4 linked regions of the Homo sapiens genome follow. The protein of the gene in region 3 purifies or fractionates together with the protein of the main gene of each other region. This does not show direct contact. Each region holds a gene or a part of one and is shown on either strand. Other genes may lie near its edges.

What was found.
Region 1: the proteins of LMX1B (region 3) and NAA30 purify together in Homo sapiens (co-immunoprecipitation; one large-scale study listed by IntAct). This does not show direct contact.
Region 2: the proteins of LMX1B (region 3) and MEIS1 purify together in Homo sapiens (affinity purification with mass spectrometry; 3 studies listed by BioGRID and IntAct, with this or other methods). This does not show direct contact.
Region 4: the proteins of LMX1B (region 3) and FAM187B purify together in Homo sapiens (co-immunoprecipitation; one large-scale study listed by IntAct). This does not show direct contact.

The regions. Positions count from the first base shown.
Region 1 is NC_000014.9:57,387,642-57,395,540, forward strand, and holds the start of NAA30 (N-alpha-acetyltransferase 30), read left to right. Parts: upstream 1-2,944; 5' UTR 2,945-3,064; intron 3,065-3,315; 5' UTR 3,316-3,316; coding exon 3,317-4,087; intron 4,088-7,899. UniProt on the Homo sapiens protein: Catalytic subunit of the N-terminal acetyltransferase C (NatC) complex. Catalyzes acetylation of the N-terminal methionine residues of peptides beginning with Met-Leu-Ala and Met-Leu-Gly.
Region 2 is NC_000002.12:66,563,653-66,571,124, reverse strand, and holds part of MEIS1 (homeobox protein Meis1), read right to left. Parts: intron 3,673-7,472; coding exon 3,614-3,672; intron 2,459-3,613; coding exon 2,369-2,458; intron 2,076-2,368; coding exon 2,017-2,075; 3' UTR 1,980-2,016; intron 1-1,979. UniProt on the Homo sapiens protein: Acts as a transcriptional regulator of PAX6. Acts as a transcriptional activator of PF4 in complex with PBX1 or PBX2. Required for hematopoiesis, megakaryocyte lineage development and vascular patterning.
Region 3 is NC_000009.12:126,697,428-126,700,927, reverse strand, and holds part of LMX1B (LIM homeobox transcription factor 1-beta), read right to left. Parts: 3' UTR 1-3,500. UniProt on the Homo sapiens protein: Transcription factor involved in the regulation of podocyte-expressed genes. Essential for the specification of dorsal limb fate at both the zeugopodal and autopodal levels.
Region 4 is NC_000019.10:35,223,881-35,232,100, reverse strand, and holds FAM187B (protein FAM187B precursor), read left to right. Parts: upstream 1-3,361; 5' UTR 3,362-3,420; coding exon 3,421-4,142; intron 4,143-6,888; coding exon 6,889-7,276; 3' UTR 7,277-7,301; downstream 7,302-8,220.

The sequences.
Region 1 (7,899 bases), on a different chromosome or scaffold from region 3:
TAAAAAAAAAAAAAAAAGAAAAAAAAAGAAAAGAAAAAATGGCTGTTGCTTCATAGGATATTACAAAACAATGAAAATATCAACTAACCACACAGAAGAGTATCACTGCTACACTCACCTTGCTCTGAGCCCATTCTTTCCTATGAAGTATTGCTCATGGAGGTAGTTGTTTTTTCAGAGTCTCATAATAGTAAATATGTCTAAAGCATTAGAGTGAACTAATCCTATTTCTATGCCTAAAATAGTGCTATCATCCTATCAAGTAAACATGAATCAAATAGAAAAGATTTCATAAGTTATAAAGGCAATTTTTTTTAGAGATGTCATCTGATTTAGAAGGCCAACATTGTAATTTTAATACTGGGATATAAAGAAAAATCACTGGGGCTGAGACATTAGAATTACCCCACTAGTTATTGAGGAGGTCAGAATTTACTTTGTCATTATAAGCATTCTAGGTTACTGAATGAGAGACTGGTGTACTTCAGTCAAAAAGCTTAACAATTTCCCTTTTATGTGTTTGATATGTGAATACAAAGTGACTAACATTTACTCCCTGGCCTCAAGAAGGTCCTTACAACTCTTGACTTTCTGAAAACCACTTTGAGACAACATCTGGTCAGCTCCTCAGTGTGACAGAGCTCAATGCCAAGTTGCAACACAGAAAGAACAGGAAGGCCTGCTGCCATTCATTCACTACAGTGAAGGTACATGCTTTTTAGGAAGGGCTTACATTTAAAAGTAAATTACTGAGAGGTATTTTTCTAAGTAAAATTCACCCTTAAACATCTCTTATGGAATTATCTGGTGCCTCTTGGGCCAGTTTTTCCACCATGATTTGAACAGATCATTGTTTCATTGGCTGACTACCCAGGTTACACTTAGAAACTTTGAAAAACATGTATCTTTAAACAATGTATGCACATTTGGAAACATGGTTTTGTTTTGTGCTTTTTAAAAGACAGAAAAGGGATCACGCTGTACTTATACATCTCATTTATATCCCCCACACATCAAGGTGTTTAGGAGGTTTTCAATGTATCTGTAGCAAGTTATACATTCTGAAAATGGCCACAGCAATATTTCTGGTCCCATATGCTCTTTGAGAACCTTGCCTCTCTCCACCAAGAGTAGAGTCTATTTCCCCTCCTGTCAAAACTGGATATAATTTTGTGTCTGCCTAGATACAATGCAGCAGAACTGACACTACATAACTTGTTTTTTGTTTCTTTTTGATGAGAGGGAGTCTCCCTGTGTTGCCCAGGCTGGAGTGCAGTGGCGCAATCTCGGCTTACTGCAACCTCCGCCTCCCGGGTTCAAGTGATTCTCCTCAGCCTCCTGAGTAGCTGGGACTACAGGCATGAGCTACCACGCCCGGCTAATTTTTGTATTTTTCGGCAGAGATGAGGTTTCACTGTGTTGGCCAGGCTGGTCTCGAACTCCTGGCCTCAAGAGATCCTCCCGCCTGGGCCTCCCAAAATGCCAGGATTACAGGCGTGAGGCACCGCACCTGGCTAGAGACTACATGACTTCTAAGGCTAGGTTATAATGGGTAATATGCTTCTGATTGACTTTCTCGCACGATACTTGCCGTGGAACCCAGCCACCAGGCTGTGACAAAGCCCAAACCAATCAATGCTAAAAGACCACCGGGAGAGGTCTACATGGACTAGAACTGAGGCCTCCAGCCTTTATCCTGCATCAACCATCAGCGGTGAAAGTGAAGTTTTCAAATAATTCTACTCCTCAGCCTTAGAGTCTTCCAACTGAAGCTCTACGCATAATGGAGTAGAGAAAAGCCATCCCAGTTGTGCTCTGTCTGGATTTCAGAGGCACAGAATCTGCGAGCATAATAAATACTTTATACATAGAGTTTAGATTACGGCAAAAAGTTGCAAACGTGTTCCGTCATAGAATTATATATTGAAAACGTCCATCTGCGGCACACCAGACCAGCTCTATAAATCAGGTTTTTAACAAAACCGAATTTGTTCAGTGAGCGGGTGAGTTACACTACCTGTCTCAGCTCAGACCTGCCGGGAGTCAATTGTGGACTAGAGCAGAAGGCGCCCAGCCACAAGCTCAAGTTCTATCCCCTTTGCACTCGATAGGCAGATCCCCTGGGAGGATCAGGCCACCTGTTTACCAGTGCTTCCTAACCTATTTGTGTCACAAGTTTAGGAGTGTGCTTCTTAGCCCTGGTCACTCTCTTTCACCACCTCTCTCTAACCCTTCCCCAGGTGTGCTAGCAATTGCCCAACACCTGTCAGTCACTTTTGCCTCCAATTTTACTGGGTGCGAGGAGCAGAGTAAGGAGGGAGAGGAAGAGGGCTGACTCCCTTGCCTCAAAGTGGCAAGGGCCAGCTGAACTTAATTCACACTGCAAACCACCACGTTTCGACAGCCATCCCCATATTTTCACAGCTCAAATCTTCCTTTCTTTTTCGGTCGGCTTCTCTGATTTGCTCCATTTTTAATCGCTCCTCCCCCATCCTCCTTGCCCCTGGTCAGGGCAAACATTAAACGCTGTGCAGCTTTAAAAGGGCATTTTTAGGTGACTTGTAAACGGCTTGTTCCACAGGCCCCGAATTGGCGAGATTCGCTACAGCTCGGAGTGCGCGGTAGACTTTAAGCAGGGAGCGCCTGCCCGGTCCATCCCTCCCCGGCCCCGCGTGGCAAGCACCGCAGGTTGAGGCGCCCCCAAACCGAGGAAGAGGGTTTGGGAGCCTGTGACTCCAAAGCCCTCTGCAACTTCCCGGCCCCACAGCCCCACCCACTAGCACGCGGCCTTCCCCGCAGCCCGCAGGAGACACCTTTGTCCCCGCCCCTCCACAGGTCACCTCCCTCCACGCCCCTCTCTCTTGGCCCGGGCAGCCGGCAGGCAGGGAAGTGTCGTAAAGCCAGGCCCAGGAAACTTTACCCGGCCTAACAGCTGAGGCGCTTTACGGCGACGGCGGCTGAGTGAGAACCTTGGCGGCTGTGGAGGCTGCCGCGGCTGCGAAGGAGGCGGCGGCGGTGGCGGAGGAAGAGGAGTGGCGGCAGCGGCGGCGGGGACCCGTGCGGGGTGAGCCGTGAGGAGGGGCCGCGAGTGACAGGGCTGGCGGGTGGGCCCGGGCGGACGGGGACGGTGGCCGGCTGAGCAGCTGGGCGGCGCTGAAGAGCGGGGGGGTGGCGGGGAATTGGGGGGCAGCTCCGTGAGGGACGGTTTCTGCCTTTGTTCCCCCCACCTCGGCCGCCCCCCATCCGTCGCCCCCTGTTCTCCGCGCTCCTCGGCCGGGTTTCATGGCCTCCCCTCTCGGTCTGTGTCGCTTCTAGGATGGCGGAGGTACCGCCTGGGCCTAGCAGCCTCCTCCCACCACCAGCACCTCCGGCCCCGGCGGCGGTCGAGCCCCGCTGTCCCTTCCCGGCGGGGGCCGCCCTCGCCTGCTGCAGCGAGGACGAGGAGGACGACGAAGAGCACGAAGGCGGCGGCAGCAGGAGCCCGGCGGGCGGAGAGTCGGCGACGGTGGCGGCCAAGGGGCATCCGTGCCTCCGCTGCCCTCAGCCGCCGCAGGAGCAGCAGCAGCTCAACGGATTGATTAGCCCCGAACTGCGGCACCTCCGGGCGGCCGCCTCCCTCAAGAGCAAGGTCCTGAGCGTAGCAGAGGTGGCCGCGACCACAGCCACCCCTGACGGAGGCCCCAGAGCGACTGCAACAAAAGGAGCCGGGGTACACTCGGGCGAGAGGCCCCCTCACTCCCTCTCTAGTAATGCAAGAACTGCGGTCCCCAGCCCGGTGGAGGCAGCGGCGGCGAGCGATCCCGCGGCGGCCCGCAATGGACTGGCCGAGGGCACCGAGCAGGAGGAGGAGGAGGAAGACGAGCAGGTGCGGCTGCTGTCTTCGTCCCTGACCGCCGACTGCAGCTTAAGAAGCCCTTCGGGCAGGGAGGTTGAGCCTGGGGAGGATCGGACGATACGATATGTCCGATATGAATCCGAGCTACAAATGCCCGATATCATGAGACTGATCACCAAAGATCTGTCCGAACCCTACTCCATTTATACCTATAGATATTTTATCCACAACTGGCCACAGCTGTGCTTCTTGGTAAGTGGATAGAATAAAAAGAGGGTGAACCCAGCAGTGATCGAGACTGTGCGGGGCAGGGAGTGAGGGCCCAGAATGTGGCAGTGGATATCTCCTGCTGCGTATCATAGTACGTTATATGATGTCAAGTGCTGTACACATTCCTAGTTATTTAATGAAATTGTTTTGAAGGTAAGACTTCATGATTCGGGTTAACGTGATACTAGTGTAACTGCAGCAAGCCTGTATGGTGGCGTGTTTCACTGGGGTGGGGGTCTTGTGTCTTGTTTACATTAGATTATAATCGTGTTTAACCGTCTTTAATTACCCGCCCGCATCCTCAAACACTTTACAGTCATTTAATTTGAACATGGTTCTGTTCAGATACAGGCCTTATTAGTCTCTCGATTACAACCATAATCAGGGAAGAGTGTATGCATAAACATGTTGTGGTGAACATGGATGTCAGCAAACTTGGTGTGGTCATATTGGAGAATTAAATCTTACAAGCATTTTCGGTAATTATGGAGATGTTTCTCTTTACTTCAACTGGACAATTAACAGTTGTAGCCAGCCTGCTTTCTGGTACTCCATTCCAGAAAGCGCTACTAACACTTCTGGTGGCTGAAAGACTCCTGAAACTTGAACAAAATACCCTTTTGTGGAATGTAGAAAACTTGTGTGAAATTGTTACCGATCTGATTTTTTTTTTTTTAATTTAAGAAACTGGTTGTAGATGTGGCCAAACACTAGTAACACTGGCTTGTGTAGAGTATAATTGACAATAATATTACACGTAAGTGAAAGACTTTTGGACGGTTTTTAAAAATTAACATAGTATTGGCAGTACCAGTAATTTCTTCACAATAATATTGACCCATTTCAGTCTGTATGAACCCTTTAACTTAAACGTTGACTGCAGGTGTATGCTTTGTATCATGTGCTCACAAGCATATTGTTTCTGTTGAATTTTACTACAGAAAGATGACATCCTTTTAAGGAATATTTTTTAATATGTGAAGGGAAAAGCCACCATTACTTAATGTTTTAGCATTGGCTTAGTTTCACTTGGTAATTCCCTGCAAGATATTTTGACAATACTTATCTTTTTGATTCTCTAGCTTGGTGATAATTTGAAAATGTAACCTGGGTATTGTAGATAATGGTAGTTCTATTTTCTGTCTTAACTTGCTTAAACTTCAATTCAGTACATTTGTTAAAACTGTGGGTACTACTTTATATTCTTGAAAACTGCTCTTTCAGTATTCTAAGCATTGTATCAGAATAGTTCTAAGACATGTCTGTGTCAATGAATATGAGAAAATGATTTATAGCACTATTATAAATGTCATATCAAATGCCACTGTAATTGCTAAAAATTGTAGATTTAGTTGTAAGTTAACCCACAGAAGTAGATGATTGAGTCACATTTCAAGTTGAAATAGATGTTTTTCTGTCAATTCCAGGAAATAGTTGTGTATATGATATTTAGTCAACTTTGAGTCCTGATAGTTACCTAAGCCTCTCTCAACTTGTTTGCTATTTTAGACTCTGGTCAACAATATTAGTAAACTTTAGATTTGATTTTATGTAGAACCCTCCCAATTCACCAGCTAATGTGTATGTTAGCCTTTAGTAGCTCAAGTTTGTTTAATATTCTGAGTATCTAGAATTGCGATATGCACAAGTGGTTGACCTATAAGATTTACTGGTGCAAGTATGAATCAGGAGGTATTAAACAATAATAAAACAGTAAAAAAACAACCAGGCCATTTAAAACTGAAGCCTTTATCTTGGCATACTTTTAAATTTAAGTTTCCCATAGGAACTATTTTTTTAAAAATACAGATGCGTAAATGTCTGTTTATTTTAAATCATATCCTTTTAGAACTGAAAGCCATCCTAGAGATAATCTAGCCCAACTTAGGTTTTGTTCTGTTTTGTTTTTTGATTGAAAAAAAGTTAAGAACCAAAGTGACTTAAAATGTTTCAATCTCCAGATATTTACTGACAGAGGGGTAGGTTTTGTTTTGTTTTTTGATTGAAAAGAAGTTAAGAACCAAAGTGACTTAAAATGTTTCAATCTCCAGATATTTACCGTCGGAAGGGTAAAGCTAGAACCCAGTTCTCCTGGCCTCTCATTATGGTAACAAACAAGAACCTGAAAAATGACATACCCTTGATCCATTCAGTGAAGATTATTGTGTCACCAAGTTATCTTCACCAAGGGACAGTTGCCCTTACATCAATCTCAAGAGATTAAAAACCTCCAAAATGTTCCGTTTTCCGTGGATAACCTGTAATGGGTCAATGGAGTATATGGGGTTGAACCTTACAAAATTGCCAATACTTGATTAATAAAAATGATAGCTTATTATGATTCTTCCTAATTGTAAAAGATGTAAAAAAAAAAAAAAAAAAGGACAAATGTGAGACACTTTCAGTTACTCTGTACTTAACCATTTTATCTTTACCTGTTTTCATAGTAACATTTTCAGTTGTTGGTATCTTTTTGAAGTTCTTAAACTTACTCTCAGCAAATGTAACATAGTACTTCCATTTATTTGTTCTAAATTTAACTTTTTGGCTTCCTCCAGTTTTCTATTTGTAGTGTTCTAGAATTTGGGAATCTCTCACTTTATTTTTTTCATAGTTTTATAGACTGACAACCCTTTGGCCTTGTAGTGTTAAGTCTTAATCTTGCCGGGGATTTTTCAGTTCCCATCCTTGAAAAAATACATTTAATAGCGTGAATTCCAAATGTATATGCAGAGCTTTTATTTGGAAAAATTGACAAGCAATTTAGTGATTCCTGTAAATGTACCACATATTCATGAGTAGTTTATCAGGAAAAAAAAATGCAGCATTGGTCTTCACTACTAATGTCATCGTAATGGTGTATGATATATTGGGCTTTTTAGATGATGTATACAGCTTGATTTTTGCTCCTATAGATTCTAAATTAGGAAGAAATCAGGTCTTAAGAATGAACTAATTTAATATTTTGTTTGCTTATTCCATGCTCAAAGGACAAAGATTTGTTTGAAATTCCTGTTCAGATTGAAAGTACTGTCCAGTTGTATTGTGTTTAATGGTTTTAATTTTTCCTCATTTTTGGATAGTTTTATATAAGGTGTAGCTATTCTGAGGTTTGTATCATCAATCTAATACAGGTTTTCATTTCACCTGAGCCTGGCTTATGAGGTCAGGCCAAAATTTTTTCTGGCCCTTTTAAATATACCATTTGGTCTGTGATAATTTTATGTATGTGTATGTATTTATACGTGTCTGTATATACGCACATATATTTGAAGTGAGTTTCAAATCAGAAAAAGCTTTCAGAGTTGGTCGAGGCGATTTTTGTGCATACTTCAGGTCTTTGTTTAAAAAATTTTTTTAAAAGATTGATGTATTGTGAGGGAAAAAATTAGAAATAACAATTTCAGAGGTTTATTGACCCAAAATAGTTTTGGAATGTGTGATAAACCAGAAATGAATTAGCGTGGGTTGTTGAATTTCATATTCCTTCAAAAGGATTTTTCCGACCTAGTTTAGGTTTGCATGAAATGGATTAGAATTATCTTGCTGAAAAGATTTCTCCACAGTTAAAAAAAGGCCTTTTAATCAATTTACAGAATGACAGACTAAAAAAGTCACAAATTTAAAATATGTATTAATTATAAATTGGACATTACTTATTAGTTTTTTGACTCATTTCTGCTTTTGTTGAAATAGTTTCTTCTGGAAAGTTAATTTATGGAAAACAGACTTCTTACTGACACATTATTTAAACAGTTGGAGATACTGCCCTATTTATATTTACCAGAAATACT
Region 2 (7,472 bases), on a different chromosome or scaffold from region 3:
TAAAGCATTCTTTTGATTCATACAGAAGAAAATAAAATGAGAAACATCATGCTGGAAACTCACATTTTGCCACTATTTTCCTTTCATTGTCACTGTTATCAGGTCCGCCTACTGAGGTCTTATTTATTAAAAAGAATAAAATTGTTATTTGAGGTCTGGTCTGAAGAAGCACTTTTGTCTCCTGAAATATTCTCTATCAAGAATACAAGAATACACTGAGCTGGTCACCAAACATCTCACAGGCAGCTGAACTACACAGGCTCACTAAGGGTGATTACTTAGCAAAACCTGTACTTAAAAAAAGAAAAAAATCAAAACAGTTATCAATGAATTCTTTCCACATGGTTTCTTAGAGCTGGGGAAAAGAAAATCTTCACAAAACACTGTCCACCTTATAATGATTTTGAGAACAATAAGAAAAATTGGACCTAAAACAATACCCCTCCTGCTTTGAGGGGGCCTCTTGTCTTCTGCATGGATTGCTATAGTTGATGGAAACTGACAGGTGTATTGTTTCTGAGAGCTATAAGCTCCATAATCATCAAGGGTGAAAGGCATAACGCTATTGCTAAGTAGGTTCAATTGGCTTTAGTTCTAAGTAATAGTGCACTGTGAATACGATGAACACCTTCGAATAAGGTCTCCAGGCTCTAACAATGAATGGCTGCTTAATCTAGCCTAAAGGAACATTTTTGAACTAATGAAAATTGCTTATAAAATATACTGTACCCACAGCTCTTTAATCAAAAAAGATGATAATTTTTTTTGTAATAACCTAGTAATTTAATTGGTCACGAAGCATAAAATACATCATTTAAATTTAATTGACCCAGAAACTAAGAAACAATATTTAAATTAACTAAGCTAGAGAATTCCATGATGAGGTAATAAGACTGTTGCATTCCCCAGCTCAATGGAATGTTTTCAGAGCTAATTGTTAAACTTATATTTGACTCACACCCAGAGAAGATGACCAGTACGAATTACCCCTGGCCTCAGCAGTGATTTTAAATAGTGCATAAATATAATCAGAGACACAAGCAAGACTCTGAAATAACTGCTTTTAATTTCAAAAACAAAGCAAGAACAGTGCTATTAGGGGTAATTTAGGAAGTGAACAAGAGCCTTGGTGTTCAAAACAGTTTTACTTGTTTGAACTCGAATTGCTGGAGTGTCTTTATAGGAGAGAAAATGCAAGAGTGAGAATCTGGGACAGTTTTCCTAGGCCCACTTCACTAGGCCTGCCACTGATGATTGCATTAATGATCTCTATTTTTGTATACTGAATAAGTCAAATCCATTTGTCACACTGCAAGTGATGGCATACTTAATTTGGATATAGTCAATTAGCCTGGGCTAAGCCCCGCAGCCTGCTGTGCACACCTCTATTTTGTATTCTCCCTTTTCCCATTGCCACACGTAATCCCATTATGATGGACAGACAAAGGAATAAACTAAGAAAAAAAATCAAAGTTTAGTTGACTGGAGCTCAAAATATGCCTTTACTTACCCTAAGTAAAGCTTGTGTTTATTTTACCTAAAAGAAGTCTCTGTTTAGCTTTTCGGTGTCTTGCAGGTTAGTGTAGAAATGTAACTCATGCATCAACTGCGGTTAGACAGATTTATGACACTTTGGGGACATGCTCTTCCCTCTCCTTGCACTGCTGCAGACTGCTTACATTTTGCAAATCAGTCTGTTGCTATGACAACCCACTCCCCCACCTCCTGACTGCTTCTTGTTTTGTCATGTGGTCAGTACTGTACAATAGCAACACACAGGATAAATGTACATCATACACAGTATTTATAAGCTTAAAAGCTTGATCACAACCAAAAAGAAAATGATGGAAGCAAGAAACCAGGAGTTTAATGGAAAGGAATGAACAAGCATGAAGCTATGGGCAAGGAGAACATAAGAAAATGCAAGAGGAAAAATATTCCTAGGACAAAGTGAAAACAAAGACCCCATTTGTACTTACTTCCCCCTTGCTTTGCGATTGGTTAACTAGATGAAGGTTACATGTAGTGCCACTGCCCCTCCATGCCCATATTCATGCCCATTCCACTCATAGGTCCTAGAAGGGAGATAAAAATCCAAGAAGAGGCCAGAAAATGAGCAAAGTCAACAGATAGTGCCAAAAGACCCTTAAAAAAAAAACAGGATCTAGAGGGTTGAGAAATAGTGAGATCTTCAGTGCATAAAGATCCTGGCTTCCCCTCTGCAATATCTTAGATGCACAGATAGCAGACAAGGCAAGGCAGCCAGCTTGAGATAACAGAAAAGGATGAGGCGGATTTACCTGTGTTGATGAGGGGATGACACTCTTGGAGTCAAAAATGAGGAACTACCACAAAAACAAAGTCTTACCTGGTGCTCTAATTCCCATATGTTGCTGACCGTCCATTACGAAACCTCCCATGGGCTGTCCATCAGGATTATAAGGTGTTCCTTGACTTACTACAAAAGTACAGAATGTGGTTTTTTAATAACAGTCTCTGAGAGCAAAAGAAATAGCCCAAGAGAGACTAAGAGGAGAACATACCAGAGAAAGAGACAGAACATAGCAGGCTAGTATAATTTTTTAAACATTCAAAGTGAAATTTCTCTCAGACTAGATCTACACACCTCTGTGACTGAGTTTTTAAAACATCTAGCTCAAAGAGGGAACAGTTAAGGTGTGGAAACTTTCTGCTTGGGTTTTGTCTGGTGACCACATAATGGGTGTTGGAAGAAAAAAAGTTACAGGAGTAAATGTGTGTTGCCTCAATGCGATGCTAACATAGTTTTCCATAGTGCTCCCTAAGAGATGAGAGAGTATTTCATAAAGAAAGTAAAGACTCACATCACCCCTAGCAAATACTCTTGTTATCTTACTGGCATATTATAATGCAAAAACAAATCCTAGAGAGATGTTTCTTGGATTTTTAGATCCACAAGCCAGGATCCCATAGAAGTATCGCCATTTTAAGCTCATAATTTAAAAACAAAACAAAAAGACTGTTATTAAAAAAAAAAAAAGTCGAACACCAGAAGATGGATATTAACAAGAGAAGGTCTGAGAAATAAGAACCATGTATTTATACCACTACCTGAATCCCGTGTTTTAACTGTACATGAAAAGCTGCTTCAGAAGTAAGCTGCCTTGGGTTATTAAAGCACACAAAAGCTCTACCTCATTGAATGTCTTTGAACTTTACTGAGTCCCACAAGCAATCCTGACCCCTTTGCCCTTTTGACAGGTAATAAAGTTTACAGCAATTCCACACCAAGCCATGCACCAGGGAGTGGTCATAGTAGCAGAAAGAGCTGGGAAGGCAAACTCAGAAAAAAAATAACATTAATATATTGAATGTGTACAAAGAATATTGTAACTGAGCATATTATTTAAGAGTTACTTTTCTCTGTTGGCTTTTTTTTTCCACCTTCTCCAAACGTTTTATAATGATGTTAAATTGATTAGTGTTGTTATGAAACGAAACTGGTTTAATTTTAATTGCCAGGCGTTCCTATACTCACTCCCAGTTTATTTACCAGGTAGCGGACCTCCCGGTGAATGGCTTGAGGATGGTTTTCGCTTGCGTGACTTGAATACAGTCACTATGGGGGACTTGCCTGCTCGGTTGGACTGGTCTATCATGGGCTGCACTATTCTTCTCCGGGCATTAATAAACCTGTAACCAAGAAAGTGAAACAAATCGTTATTCCTTAAAAATAAAAGGGGGGGTTGAGGAAGAGGAAAAGATGAATCGCAGTTGGAGTAAAACTAGATCTTGGCAAAATGGGACTCCTTCAGTTCTCTCCATTGCTCTATGTGCAGCCTCACGTGCTGGAAAACCTGTAACCCCCAGTGACCTTTGAGTACACAGGCTTGGGGTTTCTGAGTTGATTTATGTTTGCCTGTTTTACCACAGTTGGACACTTCCATTTCATCTTTTCATGGGGGAATTAGCAGAGTTTTCAGGAAACAATACTAGCCACCACTCCTTTCATTTGCAAAGAGAGAAAATTGGTGTAAAGAGTTAGATGCTCATAAGGGCATCTGTTACCTCTCCTAATTAGTGACATTTCAATCTTATGTTCTCTGACTTCTTTTGTACAATTTTTATCAAAACCACCCCTACCTCTTGCAAACCTAATTCTATTTTAATGCCCACTATTAAGATAATGAACTGGGATGGCAGCACACCATCAAATGAGAGAATGTCTGGAGTTTATCACCACTAACTCACACTGCTTAGGACTTCAGAGAAATGCATTCCTTGTAGAGATTTCTTGGGGTGGCTTTTTTTGTTGTTGTTGTTTTTTTTTTTTTTGCTCTTTATGTAAAGTCTGAGGTCAAGGCAAGGTCACAGATATACAGTAATTGAACTTATAGTTTTGCTTTCTCCAGCTAGTACTGAAAATTTATAAACATCTTATTAAGGCACTTAAGTTACTTTAAGTGCCTTAATAAGATAGTTTTGTACAATTATTTTTGTAGCCTCTCCAAAAGTGACAAGTCACTGACATGTAAAAAAGTATTAATATACGCTCTCCAGAGTCATACGCATGAGATTCTCTTAAGATCCGTTTGTTCTGCATAATATTAAAAATTACGTATCAAATCCAGAAAATGAAGAGGACATATTAGATTCTGAAATAGTAAATTCCTTTTAGTTCCCAACTCAGATCAAATCTGAGCAGGACATAAAAAATACAATGAAAAGTTTAATAAGGCTCTATTAATGATTAAAGGATCCATAGTCCAGTATGAATTCTAGTTTGTAAATCTGCCCACTTCAGGAAGGAAAATAGTTCCTAAAAACCAAACCATTAAACAGACAGGGACAGGTTTTCAAAACAAAAATGCATACTTCATAACATTTTAAGATTCTCAATATCCTGTATCCTTGTGTTCTTTCATTATCTGAGAAGTAATTGAAACAAATAATGAAACTAGAATCTAACTAAAAGGTATACTGTTTGTGCTAATTCTTGTTGGCAATACATATTATATCAGTTCTTGTATATGAAGTCCCTGAACTGCTAATAAAAATATTTAAAACACAGGTCTACAACAAATTGTGTTGCAAATCAGGTTATCATTATCTTGTATAAACCATGAAAACTGGAATCATGTGAGCAGAAGGTTAGATTAATTCTCCATTCTCATTATAAGCACAGGTGTAGCACAAACACCATGTGAAATAACCAATTAAAATGAAAAAAAATCTGTTTTTTCATTAGCTGCCTTCACTGCATGACCAATTAGAAAATTATTTAATATTAATATTCTGCATATACCAAAAGTAATTTTCATAGTAACTAATGTAGGTAAGAGAGCAAAAACATCTCTTTATCTATGGTACTGTTCATTATCTGCAGACTCTTAGAGGGAAGGAATTCTGTCTATTAACTTTCTTTTTCCAGACTTTTTAAAAACATAATCTTTTATGGATGTGACTTATACTACTTACCTAAAAATAGGAAGAGACATTTTTAACAGATGAGAAGCCTGGGCTCAGAGAAATTAGGTGACTTCTTTGAGGTCACATGTTACCAAAGAGATGTTAATAATTTGCTAAATGACACACAGCTGTCAGTGGTAGCAAGCACCCTCCTCCCTGGTGCTCTGGCACAGTGACTAGAGCACCGCAACTATAGTGCCACTCATCTAGAATATCCAGACTAAATAGATATATAAAAATTAGCTGGTTTCAAGCCAATTACCACTGGCAGCAACCCCAGTGTTTAGTCAAGGAAGAAGCATGACTGTGAACATTTTGTAAATTGAAAATTTTGATGGCTGCACTGTTTGTGTGTATAGGCAAAGATAAGGCTATTCAAAGAGAGAGAGAGAGAGTGAATACAGTGACTTGATTTATCTGTATTCCAAAACTTGTCTCCATCATATTCACATATTGAGACTCCCATAAACTAATTCATAATAATCAACTCAGGTTTGAGTCTATGACTATTAAAGTCGTGAGTTCATTTTTAAAAATTACACCTCAGGTTTCAAAAGGGCTGTAATGGTCACTTCGTTTGGTCACTGACATGAATCCCCTATATGATATCTGTCCCCCAAAAGTACATAGGTAACCTCTGCTGAACTAATACAGCACTCACCACCTTACTTAAGAGGCCACCCCATCTATAAACAAGGCTGTTAGAAGGTTCTGCCTTACTAGATCAAAAATATTTATGTTGGTGCAAAAGTAATTGCGGTCTTGCCATTACTTTCAGTGGCAAAAACAACAATTACAGGGGGAGGGGGAAGGGATAGCATTAGGAGATATACCTAATGTAAATGACGAGTTAATGGGGGCAGCACACCAACATGGCACATGTATACATATGTAACAAACCTGCACGTTGTGCACATGTACCCTAGAACTTAAAGTATAATTAAAAAAAAAAAAAACAATTACTTTTGCACCCAACCTAATAGTTTTATCAGCACAACTCCTTGGGGTACTGTAAGCAATTCTAATTTTACTTCCACAGGATAGCCCTTCAAATAGTTAAACATAGCCATTATGCTTTATAGCCTTCTCCCCTCTAATCCTTAGGTTAAACATTAGTGATTCTTAAAAAGTGCCTGCTAGAATGTGAGTCCTTCTAGGATATTGAGTCCATTCAATACCTGGACCACTCTCTGCTCAGTAGGCTGATCTTTGTCTATGTCCTCCTGAAGCCTTGCAGTGGACAACACCAACGACATTTATTCCAGGCCTGCTCTGATCCCCAGGTAGAAAGCAAATACACACAAAAAATACCACAGCCTCTTAGCCAACTGCCCACAGGTACTAGATGTTATTTGCTTCTTTTTGGTGGCAAGAACTGTTTGTTGTTATTAAGAACACAGATGTCAGCTACCCCTAGAATGTGTAGATATCAAAGGGGGAAACCTTTAATTAAAAAATAAAACATAAACAAAAACACTGAAAACCTGAGAAAAACTAATCACCTTTTCTGAGCTGTTTGACCACATTAGTAGGTCTACCTGCAACTTCTTACTTGTGAAACATTTAATTTAAAAAATTCAATATAATGAAATATCATTAGTACATATAGGATGTAGTAATCTCTCAGAACGTTACTGAATTACAATTACTACACTTATATGAACAACTAATTATTTGGGGTCATGATGGACATCTATGTGAAAACAACAAAGTAAATAGCAAAATATTTTATTTTTAAAACAACATCACCTTTTCGACCTTAAACAATCTCCACATTTGATTCTCTTTAGTGTATTTTATCATTATCCCAGACTATTTTATACATCCTCTCTCTTTGGAATTATGCTACACACAGCAGAGCCATGTTTAGATGGCTTCAGGGTGAATTCAGATACAAAAACATTTTCCTTCTGGGCAAAGTAATAAAATGACATTCTTGCTCCTCCCACTATAAGTCAAACTGAGGTCAGTTCCCCATCCCTCTATCTGTTTAAATAAATTGGTCCAGCTGTTTGTTTCTAAAA
Region 3 (3,500 bases):
GGCAGGGTGGGGGTGGTGGTGTGGTAAACGCTAATAAATAATTTAACAATGACAAGTTATTAAATAAAATGTGTCTGGGGATGGCGGGTGGGTAGTGAGAATCTGTCTGTACAAGGAAAACAGGAATGGCCGGTGGCCCATCCCCACACCTGGCTGGGCTGGGCTCCCATGGGACCCCCAGGTGGGGTCGGGGGAACCAGCAAAGAGGCTCATTGGCAATGGTGCCTTCCAAGGGCCAAATGTTGGAGGGGTCTTTCCTGCTCCCCCAGTCCCCAGGCCACATGTGCCTGTGAGTATGGGTCCGCAAGCCTCCGTGTGCGTCCAGGTGTGAGTGTGTGTGTGCGAGCGCGTGCGTGTGAGCGTGGAGCCCTTTCCCCCCAGGGCAGACTTAGCCCCAGAGCTGCAGGCTCTCCCTCACCCTAGGTGGTGCCCAGAGCTCAAGGATGGAGCCAGGCAGGCATCAGGCAATCCTCCTTCCTGAGGTTCCCTGCGTGCAACATGAAAAGGACATTCAGATGGGGGCAGAGTGGGGAATCAGCCTCTTGCTAGGAGGCTGCAGGGCTTCCCAAAGGAGAAGAGGCTTGTCCCTGCCAGGCCCTGCTCATCTGATGCAGCGCCAGGGCCTTCCCACCTTTACCCACCCTCAGGAAGCCTCCTAAGATGCCCAGCCACGTGCACCAACCCCCTTTCTGAGCTCTTTCCAGGCTGTGCTGGCACCTTGGTCTGACTCTTGTGAGCAGTGTCTCTGTGTGGCCTCCCTGTGCGTTTCCCAGGATAGCAGAGTACCTGGGAGGCTTCACGGAGTAGGCAGATGAGGCTCTGGCTGGGGCCATGCCCAGCTTTTTGTCCCTCCTCTGCCCTGTGTTACCTGGGGCAATTATTTCCTCTTTCTGAGCCTTGACTTCCCCAGCAGGGAAGTGGAACTTGGTCTTTTGCCAAGACTCCCCCTGCCCACCTCTCATTCTCTTTTGCTCTGGAGACCACACAGTTATCTCCCTCTTCCCACTCCAGCCCCCTTAGTGATGAAGGTTCCATGTCACGGCACGGGCAAGGGGTGGTCCTGGCTACTCCCCGCCCAGCTCCCAGCCAAGGCTGCAGCTCCTCCCATAAAGTGGGAGAAGGTTGCCCAGCCCCACAGGCTTCTGCTGGGTGGCCCTGAACACATCGCCTCCCTTCTCTGAGCCTCAGGCTCCTCATCTGAGAAACGGGTCCCTGCCATGTCTGGACTCTCTGGCTGGGCCGGAGAGTCTGGCTTTCCTTCTAGGAGACACCCCTCAAGGCAGGCCCTGCATCTTGTTCATCTGCGAGCCACACCCAGTCCGGGGCTGGGCAGAGTGGGCACTGGTGTCTGGGAGCCTGTGGGCAGCAAGGCACAGCATAGAGCAAGGGGCCCCTAGCCACGGCTGACAGGGCGCCTCCAGCATAAGGGACTCTCTGAGGTCCCTTCTGGCTTTAACAGTCTGTGGGTCACAAGCATGCTGTCCCTAGACCAGCTCCTGGCATGGGGTCCCGGCTGGATTCGGGGGTTTGTGAGGCCCCAGAATGGGAATATGTGACCCCAACAGCTGGCAAGTTTACTAAGAACAAGTTGTGACCCCCTGACCTGGAGGTCATTCACAAACCACAGGGGACAGTGGGGCACAACGTCCCTGTTCTCAGCTCAGCTCTGTCACTAACCCGGACCTTGGACAGGCCTCTTTCCCTCTCTTGCCTCAGGGTTTCCAACTATAAAATAAGGGGCAGATGAGATGACCGCTTCTGACGTCCCTTCCAACTTATTGGGTCTGAGAGAGAAGGGCCAGGTCTCCTGGGGGATAGGGCATCTGCCCCTGAATCTGCCCAGGATGTCCCTGGCACGATTCAGATGGTGCATGTGCAAAAGGAGAAAGAGGGGTGTCTCTCCAGAAGCCAGTGCAGCTGCTGCTCAAGAGACCCATGGTGGCACGGACCCTGGTGGGCTGAGGCGGCAGAAGGACCAGAACATCAACTGAGGTCCTTGGAGAGGCTCTGTTTGTAAGAAGAGCTGCAGAAGGGCTAGCTGGCTGCTGGGGCCCAATGGGTGACACGAGGCCACATGTCAGGCAAGGAGGTTGGCCCAGGACATTCTGGGGGGACTGAATTTCCCAGCAAACGGGAGCAAAACCACAGAACAGGTTGAACTTAGAGGATTCCAGAGATCCAGGCAGAGGGCCCCAAAGGTGGAAAAGGGACATTCATTATCCTTACTTGCTCAAAGGTTGGACCAGGCAGACTTTAGGGTGGTGGCCTAGGGCTTGACCTCAGAGTTAAAGGTAGGGTTGTGAGCACCTGAACAAGGGGACACAGTGATCACCAGGGGACAGGGTGGGCTCACCAGTCAGGCCCCAGCAGCCCAGCCTCCTTGCTCTGACAGGGATAGAGTTGAGCAGACTGGGGCTGGGGATGGATCTAGTGCACCTGACTTCCAGCAGGGCGCCTGACACAATCTTCTGCAATTGCCCTGGGAGAAGGGGGCAGGAAATGCAATTGGAATGTGTCCCCCAAAGAGGATGCATTAATGGGCCAATGTCAAACAGGGAGAGGCCAGCCCGGTCCACACACCTCAGGTGAGACCCAGGGCCAACTCCTCACTGGGCAGATGTGCTGGGAGAGAGGAGAGCAGTGGTCACTGAATCAGGGTGCAGAGAAATTCCACAGGCTGGAATGAATCGAGTAAGAAGGAATGGAAAAGGAAAGAGGTCACGGTCCCTCATTCAGTCTAAACAGTAAGTGCAGACTGGGTGCGGTGGCTCACGCCTGTAATCCCAGCACTTTGGGAGGCCGAGGCAGGCGGATCACCTGAGGTCGGGGGTTGGAGACCAGCCTGACCAACATGGAGAAACCCCGTTGCTACTAAAAATACAAAATTAGCTGGGTGTGGTGGCGCATGCCTGTAATCTCAGCTACTAGGGAGGCTGAGGCATCAGAATCACTTGAACCTGGGAGGCGGAGGTTGTGGTGAGCCGAGATCGCGCCATTGCACTCCAGCCTGGGCAACAAGAGCGAAACTCCGTCTCAAACAAAACAAAACAAAACAAAACAAAACAAAACAAAACAAAACAAAACAAAACAGTAGGTGCCCCCATCCTGCATATACACAGAAAACAGATGTGGCTTAGCTGTCACTTGCGTGTGGGGCCCAGGGATTTAGCTACAGCAGGGCAGGGTGAATCTCTAAGGTCATGTGGCCAAATCATTGTCTTTTGGGCCAAATTAACAGAGGAAGGGTGCCACAGCAGGAGAGGTGATGTGCCTGCTCACTTCTGGCCGGCTGACATCAGTGGGAAGGTGAAGTGATACCTGCCCCACACCTTTAGAGGGACAGCCGGAGGCCTGCTGGGGGACAGTGTTAAGAGGGAGAGCTGGGGAAGCCTGGCTCTGGGATGCAGGACAGCACAGCTGCTGTGGGCTCGCTGACCTAGTGAGCTCCTTGTCACTGGAGGTATGTGAGGGGAGGCAGAGGTGGCTGGGGAGAGGACCAC
Region 4 (8,220 bases), on a different chromosome or scaffold from region 3:
TCCCTGGTGTTTCCTCTGAGTGTGCCCTGGGCAGGTGATGTTAGGGACACAGCAATGACCTAGTTCTTGTCTGCACAGGCTTCTGATATTCAGGGGGAGGCCAAATGTAGAATCTAGAGACCGAGCTACTCAGGCCCATGGGCTCATGACAATGTAGACACTGATGTTTCTGTCTCCTGATTGGACCCTGGATACAATTTATCTATCCATCCTTGTCCCAATGCCACAGTGTCTTTGGTTTTCTTTTTTTTTTTTCCTTTTATTTGTTTATTTATTTTTGAGATGGAGTCTCCCTCTGTTGCCCAGGCTGAAGTGCAATGGCGCAATCTCAGCTTACTGCAACCTCCATCTCCCAAATTCAAGCGATTCTCCTGCCTCAGCCTCCCAAGTAGCTGGGATTGCAGGCATCCGCAACCATGCCCGGCTAATTCTTATATTTTTAGTAGAGAAGGGGTTGGCCAGGCTGGTTTTGAACCCCTGACCTCAAGTGATTCTGCCCTCCTTGGCCTCCCAAGTGCTGAGATTACAGGCACAAGCCACTGCACCCAGCCCACAGTGTCTTTTTATACCTTTCAATAAGTCACAATATGTGGTAGTGTTTCCCAACTTTGTTCTTCAAGATTGTCTTGGTTATTCTTGGCCCATTATATACAAATTTTGGAATCGGTTTGTAGTTTCCACCCCAAAACTCTTATTTTTTTTTAATTGGGACTTTATTGAATCTAAAGATAAATTTGGGGTAAATCAATATATATTCAATATTTAGTCTTCCAATCCGTGAATGTGGCAAATACTTCCATTGTTTAGTCTTTCTTTAATTTCTCCCAATAATGTGAAGTTATTAATGTAGAGGACTCACATATCTTTTATTATATTTATTCCTAGGTATTTAATTTTTTCATACTATCCTATAGTAATCTTTTAAGTTTCATCTTTTAATTCTTTGTTGCTGGTATATAAATCATATTTAATATATGACCTTATATCTAATTTTTTGCTTGTATCTTACCTCCAGTAAAATGCTGAATGGAAAAGTTGATGGCAGAAATACTTGTGTTATTCTTAGTATTTTACTATGAAGTATAATTTAGCCCTAGGTGTTTTTGTTTGTTTGTTTGTTTTTTGTTTTTTTTTTGAGACAGGGTCTCACTCTGTTGCCCAGGCTGGAGTGCAATGGCGCAATCTCAGTTCACTGCAACCTTCGCCTCCTGGGTTCAAATGATTCTCCTGCCTCAGCCTCCCAAGTAGCTGGGACTACAGGCACCCACCATCACACCCGGCTAATTTTTGTATTTTTAGTAGAGATAGGGTTTCGCCATGTTACCCTAACTGGTCTCGAACTCCTGACTTCAGGTGATCCACCCGCCTCGGCCTTCCAAAGTGCTGGGATTACAGGTGTGAGCCACTGTACCCGGCCTGTCCTAGGTTTTTAATAGAAACACTTTATCTTCTTAGAAAATTTCCTTTTGTTCCTAGTTTGCCAAAAGTTTTGAGCCATAAATGAATGTTGAGTTTTATCAGATGCATTCTCTGTATCTACTGAGATAATAATATGGTTTTTCTCCTTTATTCTGTTAATGTGGTGAATTACATTAATTGATGTGCAAATATAACCCAAATTTGCCGTCCTGAAATAACCCAATTTGGTCTTTATATTTATCCTTGTGTAAAGAAAATCACTGGAATCAATTTGCAATATTTTCTTTGGGATAGTGTGTCTGTGTTGACAAAAGAGATTGACCTGAGGTTTTTCTTTGTTGTAATGTCCTTATAAGGTTTTGAGATAAGGTGATGCAAGTCTCATAGAAATCTTCCATCTTTTTCTATGTTGGGAAAAGTCTGGAAGATCATTTAATTTATTTATTTATTTATTTATTTATTTGAGGCAGTGTCTCTGTCACCCAGGCTGGAGTGCAGTGGCGCAATCTGCACTCACTGCAACCTCTGCCTCCTGGGTTCAAGCTATTCTTCTGCCTCGGCCACCTGAGTAGCTGGGATTACAGATGCCCGACACCATGCCTGGCTAATTTTTTGTATTTTTAGTAGAGATGGGGCTTCACCGTGTTGGCCAGGCTGGCCTCGAATTCCTGACCTCAAGTGATTCTCCCATCTTGGCCACCCAAAGTGCTGGCAAGTGCTGGCATTACAGGTGTGAGCCACCGCCTGAGAAGGTGTTTAGAAAAGGGGATGGAAGGAAAGGGAGCAACTGAGAAAAATATTTGTTGAAGATGTATTGAGTCATGCAGATGGCTGAGGGAAGAGACGGGGACCAGCATGTGCAATGGTTCTGGGGCAAGAGCCCCTCTGCCTGCCTGACAGATTCAGGGAACAGCGGGAGGCCAGCGTGGTTGGAGGGTAGGGAGTAGGGGGAAAGGTGCAGGAGGTCAGAACAGTAACCAGAGATAAATTTTTTTAAATTTTTATTATTTTTTTTGAGATGGAGTTTCACGCTTGTCACCCAGGCTGGAGTGCAGCGGTGCGATCTCGGCTCACTGCAACCTCCGTCTCCCAGGTTCAAGTGATTCTCCTGCCTCAGCCTCCTGAGTAGCTGGGATTACAGATGCCCGCCACCACACCCAGCTATTTAGTAGAGACGGGGTTTCACCACGTTGGCCAGGCTGGTCTTGAACTCCTGACCTCAGGTGATCCGCCCGCCTCAGCCTCCCAAAAGTGCTGGGATTACAGGCATGAGCCACCGAGCCCAGCCCGAGAGGATTTGTTTACTGCTTTATCCCCAGTGCTAAGAAGTGTGCCCAGAACATAGTAAGAGTTCAGGAAATATGTGTTGAGTGTTCACATGTGACACCTTCATGCTCTTATTTCATCCCTGGGAATGTAGTCTCACCCCTGGGAAAGGAAGCGGGGCAGGTAGTAGAGAAAACTCTGAATAGACAAATTAAGTTTGCTCCTTTCCCAGCAAAATGGAGGGCTTGGAATAGAAATTAAATATGGTCAGCGGGGCACAGTGGCTCACGCCTGTAATCCCAACACTTTGGGAGGCCAAGGTGGGAGGATGGCTTGAAGCCAGGAGTTCGAGACCAGCTTGGGCAACATAACAAGACCCCGTCTCTACAGAAAAAATTTTAAACTAGCTGGGCATGGTTAGCATGCACCTGAAGTCCCAGCTACTCAACAGGCTGAGGTGAGAGGATTACTTGATTCCAGGAGTTTGAGGCTGTAGTGAGCTGTGATTGCAGCACTGCCTTCCAGCCTGGGTAAAAGAGCGAGTCCTTGTCTGAAAAAAAAAAAAAAAAGAAAAACAGTGTTGTCAGCTTGTCACAAAACAAAAGGGGATGGTGACCTCACACACACATGTGGTAGCTGCAATTCATCCCACTGCCCAGGGCTGAGGCCAGAGTTCATGGGTGACCTCACAATGTTCGGGGTGGCACCAGCCCACTGCCACAGCCCCAGTCCACCATGCCACCCATGCTGTGGCTGCTGCTCCACTTTGCTGCCCCGGCACTGGGGTTCTACTTTTCCATCAGCTGCCCCAGTGGTAAGCAGTGCCAACAGGCCCTACTCTCAGGCAATGATATTCTCCTGTATTGCAACTCCTCGGGGGCGCACTGGTACTATTTATTCACACAAGGCAAGAAGGGCAGGCTCACCAGCCTCACCAATATTTCCAATATGGAAATAATGCCCGAGGGCAGCCTTCTCATTAAAGATCCATTGCCCTCCCAGACGGGCCTCTACCACTGCTGGAACAAGAATGGCCGCCAAGTGGTGCAGTATGAAATTGACTTTCAGGATGTCACCACCCTGCATATAACACACAAGGACCTGGGTCAGAGGCCCCTGCAGAACGAGACCCTGCATTTGGGCAGCAAACAGCTCATTTTTACCTGGTGGGAGCCCTGGCAGGACTGCAACCGCTGTGAGGAGCCGGGCGAGTGTAAACGCCTGGGGTACCGCTACATTGAGGAGCCTCTGGAGGAAGCCATGCCCTGCTGGCTCTATCTGGGAGAGGTGCTGGTGTGGTCTAGCCGCTTGCGGCCTGAGCTGCAGGTGGAAGCCTGCCACGTCCAGTGCACCAATAACACACAGTTAAGGGTGGATTACGTCATTTTTGACAACTTCAGGCTCGATGAGAAGACAGAATTTGTGTGGCTCGACTGTCCCTTAGGATCCATGTACAGGTGATGGAATCCCTGCCTCTGGCCCCTACCCAGATTCTTCCGGTCAGGGGATCCTTCCTGGTAATATGTGCAGAGGGATGAGTGGGCGTTCTTTGCAGTTCAGCCACGTAGTGGTCATCAGGACAGTGCCAGGCCCTGCTCTTAAACAGTCCGAGGGGGACACAGCCCAGGGTGGTGCGAGCCGGGATGGGAGAAGCCCAGGCAGACAGATGGGGCTGTGATGGGGGAAGCCCAGGAAGCTTAGGGGCTCCAACAGGCCCCTGCTTCATCTGGAAAGGTCAGTGAGACCTTGGAGGAGAGGCTGGTGCCCCCGGGGCTTCCCATCAAGGCCTGCCTCCCAGAACTCACACTCATCTTCTTACTTCCTGCCAGGAGCCTCTGGAAAATAGCCCCTTCCCCTCCTCTCCCCCAGTCCACCTGCCCCTTAATAAGAAATGCAGGCTGGGCGCGGTGGCTCATGCCTGTAATCCCAGCACTTTGGGAGGCCGAGGTGGGTGGATCACCTGAGGTCAGGAGTTCGAGACCAGCCTGGCCAACATGGTGAAACCCCGTCTCTACTAGAAATACAAAAATTAGCCAGGTATGGTGGCACGTGCCTGTAATCCCAGCTACTCAGGAGGCTGACGCAGGAGAATCACTTGAACCCGGGAGGCGGAGGTTGCAGTGAGCCGAGATCACACCACTGCACTCCAGCCTGGGCAACATCACGAGACAACTCTGACTCAAAAAACAAAAAAACAAAAAAACCCCAGAAATCCATTGTCTCACCCTTCTGGAGGCCGTAAGTCTGAAATCAAGGTGTCAGTAGAACCACGCTCCCTCTCAGTCCCTCTGAGTGAGCTGGGCAGAATCCTCCTTTTTTCTAGCTTCTGGATGCAGTCAGAGATCCCGGTCTTCTCTGGCTTGTGGCTGCTTCTCTCCAATGCCCGCCTCCATCATCACTTGGCATTCTTCCTGGGTGTCTGTGTCCCTGTCTCTCTTTTCCTTTTCTTAAAAGGACACCGGTCAGATGGGATTGAGGGCCCACCTTATTCCAATATGCTCTCATCTCAACTGATTATATCTGCAATGATCCAATTTCCAAATAATGTTACATTCTGAGGTTCTGGGAAGGACATGCATTTTGCGGGGGCCACTGTCTAACTCAGTGCAGAGGTCTTGCCAGCCCCTGGCCACACAGGGTCATTGTGATGTGTTAAGGGGACTAAAGACTGTAGAGTGCCTGCCATAGCATCCAATAAGAAGTTCCACAATGTACCTAGCTGGGAATGCAAGCTTTTATGATATTGTCTGTGGAATATCCTCTCTGTTCTTCCACCACGCTGGGTGTGTCGGTGCCTGATTCATTTCTCCACTAAACACGTGTTCACTGCATATTTATATGCCAAGCTCCATTCTAGGGACCTGGGAAACAGTGAAGAACACAACCAACGGAGATTCTTGCCCTTGTGGCGCATAAATATATAGTTTTATTATTATTATTGTTATTATTATTAGAGACAGGGTCTTGCTCTTTCACCCTGGCTGGAGTACAGTGGCACAATCACAGCTCACTGCAGCCTCAATTCCCCGGGCTCAGGTGATTCTCCCATCTCAGCCTCCACAGTAGCTGGGACTACAGACATGCACTACCACACCCGGCTAAGTTTTTAAGTTTTGTAGAGATGAGGTCTCACTTTGTTGCCCAGGCTGAGCCCAAACTCCTGGGCTCAAGTGATCCTCCCACATCGGCCTCCCAAAGTGCTGGGATTACAAACCTGAGCCACTGTGCCCGACCTATAGTATTTTGGATGGTGACGGAGCAGGAAGGGATGCTGGGAATAGGGGAGGTTAAAAGTGTCAAGTGGTGGGGTCAGGGAAGGCTCCTCTGAGAAGCTGCCATTTCAGCCCAGACTGAAAGGAGGCGAGGAAGCCCTGGGGACAGAGGGAACAGCCAGGGCCAAGACTGCACCCAGCATGTCAGAGGAACATCTAGGAGAGCAGCGTGGCTAGGCAGAGTGAGTAAAGGGGAGAGTGAAGGAGATGAGACCAGACAGGCAAAGGCAGGTGGACAAATCATTTAAGGAGTGCCCTTGCTAACTCCTCCAAATAACCTTATGAGGTACAATCATTACTCTCCATTTTTTTTGGTTTGTTGTTTTCTTTTTTGGGACAGGGTCTTGCTCTGTCACCCAGGCTGGAGTGCAGTGCTGTGACTGGCTCACTGCAGCCTCAACCTCCTGGGCTCAAGTAATCCTCCCACCTCAGCCTCCTGAGCAGCCAGGACCACAGGCGCATGTCAGCATGTCCAGCTAATTTTTTAAATTTTTGCAGACATGGGTTCTTGCTTTGTTGTCCAGGCTGGTTCTGAACTCCTGGGCTCAAGCCATCCTCCTTGCCTTTGCCTCTGAAAGTGTTGGGATTACAGGTGTGAGCCACCAAGCCTGGTCTAGACTCTTAGTTTTACATAAAGAAATGGAAGTTCAAAGAGCTGGAGGCATTTGCCCAGGTCACCCAGCCAGTAAGGGGTGGGGCCAGTAAGGGGTGGAGCCAGGAAGAGGGGAGCCAGTAAGGGGTGGGGCCAGTAACGGGTGGAGCCCTGGGAGCCCCCAGCTGTGCCTCCTCCACCCCACTGTTGACGGCTGCACAGTGCTCCGTGGGGGGTGGCGAGGAGGGGGACTGGGCGGTGCTTTATTTTCTGTTCCTCAGGGAGACGTCGGTCCCTCCTTTCTCCCTGGCCCTGCACCTGACCTTGTCCTCCTCGCAGGCCCGTCAACTGGCGTGCCAACGACACCCCCCTGACGTGGGAGAGCCAGCTCTCCGGCCAGGACTTCACCACCTTTCTGGACCCCTCCACCGGCGGCAGGCAGCTGCAGGTTTTCCAGCCGGCCGTCTACAAGTGCTTCGTGCAGCAGGAGCTCGTGGCCCAGTTCAAACCCGCCGCCAGTCTGGAGACGCTGGAGGCTCAGTGGAGAGAGAACGATGCCCAGTGGCGGGAGGCAAGGAAGGCCCTGCGGGGCAGGGCGGACTCCGTGCTCAAGGGGCTGAAGCTGGTGCTGCTCGTGGTCACCGTCCTGGCCCTGCTGGGGGCGCTGCTCAAGTGCATCCACCCTTCCCCGGGCAGGAGAAGCACACAGGTGCTGGTGGTGAAATAAAGCGAGCCCCCGGTGCACAAGCGGACCCGGCCTCCGGTTCTCTCTTAGCCACAGCCGCCCCTTCTGTCACTTCCGCCCCGGTGCCCCGTAGCCCAGGGTGACCGAGCTCTTCCCTGGGTCAGGTGCTGCTCTGTTAACTCATTAGTAATTTCCATAGAACAGATGAGGAAACTGAGGCTGGTGATTCTAGTTCAAACCAGGTTGCCTGTCCCAAGCCCTGTGTTCTTCAGAAGGAGGGAGAGATGGAACCAGGCCATTCTTGGGGTGTCTCCCTAAAGGTGGTAACTCATAGCCTCCTCACTCATCCCATTCCCCCAACTACAAGATGGGGGATATGAGCAGGACACCTCTAGGCTCCCCAGATCTGCCCTGGGCCCTGCTGTCTTTTCCTGCCCATCCCTTGCCCACCCTCCCCACTGTGCCCAGGCCTTCAGGCCCAGCCACCACTCCCCAAGTCAGAGGCACTGCCAGACACGCGCCACTTTTCCAGGCTCTTGTGGTGGAGTGAGGCCCCTCAGGCCCTTGGAAGGGGAGACAGGCCCTTTTGCTGGTACAAGGTGCCAGGCCTGGCTCAGCTGACCTGCAGGAATCACCAGGCCTGACTGTTCCCAGAAATCACACACTGTTCAGCAGAGTGCAAGAGTGAAAAATAATTCATGCCATTAAAATTCATTGCCCTAATAGTGCAGTGAAGCCATGACTGGACAGAGATGAAACTCTCCCAGAACAGAACCTCTGCCCCCAGGATAGGGCAGGGCTCATCCTTCGTGTACCAGACACTGTTGCCAAAACACTTAAGGCTTCATGTGGTGCCCAGATGCTCAAAGATTCCTGCAGAATGAGGGAGCGTTCCCTGAGAACTAAAGAGGCCTCCCTGGGAACCAGAGGTAGACAATAATAATGATAATCATAGCAAACATTTGGGGACTTCCTGGTGAGGTCAA